Linked DNA regions of Homo sapiens: region 1 is linked to region 2. Evidence: fine-mapped expression QTL. A gene starts in region 2. The other region holds a variant in brackets. All regions are shown on one strand. Distances are between the middles of the regions.

Evidence for each region.
Region 1: its variant is fine-mapped to the expression of BRPF3 in whole blood (TOPMed, PIP above 0.99).

What each region holds. Positions count from the first base shown.
Region 1 is chr6:36,238,436-36,241,446 of GRCh38, forward strand. No RefSeq gene overlaps it. Among named protein-coding and RNA genes, the nearest start is that of PNPLA1, 30 kb to the right of the region's middle. RefSeq lists a silencer at 1,397-1,691. The variant A/G (reference allele first, on the strand shown) is at 1,386.
Region 2 is chr6:36,195,780-36,198,279 of GRCh38, forward strand. It overlaps BRPF3 (bromodomain and PHD finger containing 3), which reads left to right and starts at 965. Exons shown (of 13, transcript NM_015695.3): 1 at 965-1,191. BRPF3-AS1 (BRPF3 antisense RNA 1) reads right to left here and starts at 1,424. Exons shown (of 3, transcript NR_187147.1): 1 at 258-1,424. RefSeq lists a silencer at 580-1,319 and an enhancer at 1,670-1,719.

The DNA of each region.
Region 1 (3,011 bases), 43 kb after region 2:
AAAGAAATACCTGAGACTTGGTAATTTATAAAGAAAAGAGGTTTAATTGGCTCACGGTTCTGCAGACTGTATAGGAAGCATGGCTGGGGAGGCCTCAGGAAACATAGAATCATGGCGGAAGGGGAAGGCGAAGCAGGCACATCTTACATGGCCAAAGCAGGAGGAAGGGAGCAAAGTGGGAGGTGCTACACACTTTAAAATAACCAGATCTGAGAACTCACTATCGTGAGAACAGTAAGGGGGAAATCTGCCCCCATGATCCAGTCACCTCCCACCCGGCCCCTCCTCTAACACTGGGAATTAAAATTCAATATGAGATTTGGGTGGGGACACATATCCAAGCCGTATCAGAGTATAGTTGCTTCACATCTGTGCCAACACACAGTACTGCTGGTCCATGATGTTTGCTCCAGACCTGCTTGTTGAATGACTTCCATTAAGCTCCACTGTGCAGCCAGGCTTCTGTTATCCTTTACAGCACTTTCTGGCTTTAGAGGGAGAATTATGAACTGCCAAGGTGCTTTTCAACTGGGGAACCCTGATTGAGAGGATGGTGAGGGGGGAGAGCTCCCTGGAGTGGATTTGCTGCTGATCCTGTCCTGGACTCCAGGGCATGTATGCACCTGGCTGTGCAGCCCAGGCCTCTCTTGGCACCCACTTCTGTACTATGGTGCCACCCAGATCCCTGCATGGGCTGTTTGGGAGATAGGGTCACACTGGGCAGTCCTTTTTAGTTCAGAGTAACACTACCTTTCCCACCTCATCCTCCTCATCACTGTCATTGGGCTCTGAGGGACCCACTTTTGCTCGAGGATTGCTTTTTTACTTTCTGTTTTTGTTTTCTTGAGATAGGGTCTCACTCTGTTGCCCAGGCTGGAGTGCAGTGGCTCGATCACAGCTCACTGCAATCTCTGCCTCCTGGGGCTCAAGCGATTCTCCCCCCTCAGCCTCCCAAATAGCTGGGACCATAGGTGTGTGCACCACCATGCCCGACTAGACTAATTTTGGTATTTTTTGTAGAGATGGGGTTTCGCCATGTTGCTCAGGCTGGTCACAAACTCCTGGGCTCAAGGGATCCGCTGGCCTTGGCTTCCCAAAGTGCTGGGATTATAGGCGTGAGCCACTGTGCCCGGTCTGAGGGACCCACTTTTGAATACAGACCCCAGCCTGTGTCCTGAGGTGTTATGGTTACCGGTGGGGCAGAAGGGACCCCTGCATATTGCACCCATTTTGTCCTTGTCCACTGGCTGTTGCCCAAAATTCTACCCTTAGTGCTTTATGCTTTTACCTCTCAAGGGCATGATACTTAGGGACTTGGCAGTGACCCTGGTTAGAGTGGGCCTGTTTTCCTTTAAATGACCGGTATCCCAGTGTGAACAAAGGAT[A/G]TGTGAGCAGGTTTTGATAAGGCAATACAGCAAGGACACTGAGTCCTTGAGGGGAAGGTTTAAAAGGAGATGAAAAGGGCCTACTTGCTGTTGGCTGACCTTGGTGCCACAGACGCACATTTCAGAGTCATCAAGGATGAAGGCTCAGAAGACTCTGAAGCAACTTCAAAGGAATCGCTTGGATCACAGGTGGGGTGAAGGTTGGAGATAAGAAGGCAGGGCCAGGGAAAGAGACCCAAGGGAGCCTCGTTTGGAAGCAAAGCTCTGGAAACAAAAGACTGCAGAGCCAGGGTCAACCTGGGCAACTGTTTGAAGCCAGCCCCGTCCTCAGGTGCAAGAAAGAGCATTCTCTGGGTCTAAGCCTGAGTTGTGCGCGGAGGACACAGGCTTTCCTGGGCAGGACTGCAGGCTTCTGGCTCCACTCGTGCCTGTGGCACACACAGGTTTTGATAGCCAGAGCCTGGCCAGTCCTCCTCTTTCTGCTCCCTGTCCCTCCTGGGACCAGGACTTGGCCTCTCCCCTCCACCCTCCCTTCTCTTCCTCCTTCCCTTCTTTGTCTCCTTCTCCTTAAATTTTGTGATTTTTAATTTCAATTGATTTATTGCCCCTCCTTGTCCCCAGCCTCCCAGTTCTCCTCCCCAGAGGAAACCAGTTTCACCAGTTGCATGTGTAAGTTTCCAGAGACACTTTAATCTATGCACATGAGTGATGTGTGTGTCCACTTTTTCTATACAAATGGTAGCATACTTTTTATAGTGTTCTAGGCCTCATTTAAAATTTTAAAATTAAATATTGAGTAGATACAAAAATAGTAGTTATAGAATATATATACATTTTAAAGACACCCACAATACAATAGACCAGTATGGGTACCCACGCCCTGTTTTAGACAAAGAAGCTGGGCTTTTGAAACCATGTGCCTCTCTCCAGCCCCACCCTCCTCTTCCCCTAAATACTATCATGAATTTTACGCTTATCCTGCCCTTTTTGTCTTTTTATAATCCTACTACTTGTTTATAATAGATTATGATAAATATACTATATTTTTATACTAAGATAAATGTAATAAACATTATATATAACAAGACATAAATATATATAATAATTGAATATGGTATACTACCTTTTTGGGATTATGAATAGAATAGTTTTCTATGGCTGGCTTTTGTCCCACCCATAATTATAGTTCTGAAGTTCAGTGTACTGATACGCATGTCCGGAGTTAGTTCATTTTCACTCTTGTATAGAATTCCATTGCATGGAGATAGTATGATTATTTTCATTGGACTATTTTATTTATTAATAATAATTATTATTGTTTTCTAATTTAATTTTATTTTTTGAGACAGGGTCTCATTCTGTTGCCCAGGCTGGAGTGCAGTGGTGCAATCATGGCTCACTGCAGCCTCAACCTCCAGGGCTCAAGAAACGATCCTCCTACCTCAGCCTCCCAATTAGCTGGGACTACAAGCATGAGCCATCACACCTGGCTAATTTTTAAAACTTCTTTTATAGAGACAAGGTCTCACTATGTTGCCCAGGCTGGTCTTGAACTCTCAACCTCAATAATCCTCCGGCCTCAGGCTCCCAAAGGGTGGCTCATGCCTGCTGGGATTACAGGCATGA
Region 2 (2,500 bases):
TATTTTTTTGTTTTTTTAGATCAAAACAAAAGCCAGTTTGGTCTGATGCTGCCATTTGTCAAGCATCTTTTAGAAAGCCGCCTAATGCATTAAATTAACCAAGTCAGGTTTAAAGTGTTTCCCATGCCCACAGTGACAGACGAGTTACCAGGCATGCTTAAGCAGACTGTCAAACTTTTGTTTACTCCTTTTAAACGGAAAGTCAGATTTTTTTTTTTTTTTTTTAAAAGATGTGTGGTGCGGAACAAGACGCTCACCTGTACACAACAAAGGCAGGTCTTTCCCGGCTGTCCTCACTGGGGGAGGGGATGGACAATCGCTAGACCTTTGTCCTCAGGTCCTGGGCATGGGGGTTAGGGGAGACGCGACTTTCTGGGAGTCGTGCAGGCACCTGCAGTCAAGAAACTACATATTGGTTTTGACCTCAATGACTGCCCTGGCTTAACCTTTGGAGAGGCCCTTTAGTTCGGGGAGGGGGCTTGCTGCTCCAAACCGTAGCCACGTCACCCACAAGGACTGGGGAGGAAATGACTGACCGCTCAAGAGTCAGGGACCCCTGTCTCTCCCAACTAGACCCGAACGTCCACAGCCCTCTTATCGGGCTCGCCCCGTGGCGGGCAGGGCCGTGGTGCGCAGGGATCGCGGCGGGCGCAGACCCGGTCTCTTGCTCGGTGTCCCCGCCGCGCCCGCACCGCCACCGTGAGGCCGAGCCGGGGATGGTGCCCCGTGGCGGCGGCGGCGGCGCCTCCGCGCTCCTCTCCGCACCGCCCCGGCCGCCGCCGCGCCAGGCACGGGCGGGGGGATTTTTTTCCCGTTTCCCCCTCTTTCGCGCTCTCGCTCCTGTTCAGCGGGAGAGCCCGCAGAGTCAGGGAGGGAGCGAGGGAAGGGGTGGAGGTGGCGGGGGGAGGCCGGAGGGGCGGATCCTGCCTGGGGGCTGATCCCTCCCTCCCCTCGGCCGGGCTCCGTGGCGGCAGCGGCAGCAGCGGCGGCTCCATTCCCCCTCCTCCCCCGGGAGCGGCGGCGGCGGCCGGGCCGGGGCCCCAGCGCGGGCCGGGAGGGGGCACGGCGGAGGCCACGGAGGCAGGCGCGGGAGAAGACCGCGCTCCGCTTCCCGGGCCGCGCCGACCTGCTCGGCGGCCTGCCCGCCCGCGCCCAGGGGCCCCGAACGGTGGGGCCGGGCAGGCGGCTGAGGTAATGGGGGCGGCAGCGGGGCCGGACAGAGCGGGGGCGGGGGCATCGGGGCCTTCGGGGACCAGGGACTGCACGGGGGGAAACCGGAGAAGCGGGGGGCTTTCCGAGCAGGGCGGGGGCGGTGCGAAAGCTCTCTCCTGGAGCGAGGGCGGCGGCAGGGAAGGAGAAGGCGGGTGAGCGGGGGAGCTGAGAAGCGAGGACCCCCTCCCGCAGCCGCCATCTTGTCTCCCCCCCCAGCCCTGGATTCCGAGCCGCTAAGCCCCGCCCCCGCCACGCCTTCCAATTGGCCTGGCCAGACGAGAGTCCCGCCCCTTGAGCGGCCCTAGGTCCCCTGGGTCCCTCTGACGGGCAGGTGACGCAGCCAATGGGTTCTCGCCTCTCCGCCCCGCTCATTCGCTGGCGCTCGCTTTCTCTGTCTGAGGGTCGGACTCCACGTCAGGCTGTCTCTGGTGCGCTCGCCCCTCCCCTCTGAGGAGATGTTATTTCCCTCCTTTCTTCTCCGAGGGGTCAAGATTCTTCTGGAAGAGGTGCCCCCTTAAAGGAGCAGGAGCCTTGGCTGGGGTCCTCCTTGTCTCCTGAGTATCTTGTGTGAGGTGCAGGGGATACAGTCTAATTGCAGAAGCTCCTCATTCTTCGGGGACCTGGATGGGGTGGGTGAGCGAGGGGTCAGGGGGTGCCGAGGGGAAATCTGGGGGGGCGGGGGTTGTTGGAGATATTTTGGAGGTGTGTATGTGGGAAGGGCTGTGTAGGTTGAGAAACTCCCGCCAAAAAACTCGTCTAGACTGTAAGCTCCTTGTGGGCGAAACTCTTTTCATTTCCCTCATCAGCAGTCCCTTCCCCCTCTAGAGTTTCTCCCCGGTGTCTGGAGGCGTGGGTGGGACAAAACACGTCTGTGTAGAGTCTTGCATGGTCGAGAGATGCTTGAGCAGCCGAGGAGGTGGCAGGTGGGGAAGGAGAAGATGGAGCGGCTTTCATGAAAGTGGGCGCCGCACCGCCTGTCTGCGCTGTTTGGGGTCGGTGTGGAGGCAGATGTTCTCACCTCTTCTAGGGCCTCGGTGCCTTTGGAGGGGTGGGTGATGAAGCAGGTCTGTTGGCCCTGTCTGCCCCCAGGGACTTGGCATTTGTAAGGAATCCAGTAGCCAAGGGCCTCTGGAACCCGGACAGAATTGCTGCGATGATTCTGTTTCCTTTGGCTCCAAATGGGGTGTGTGCCAGCCCGCCTGGCACTGCTCCTCAGCCAAATTGGTTTTTTGTTTGTTTCAGTCACACTTTGGGATTGGAAGGCCTTTCAAGTAAAGATGTTAATAAT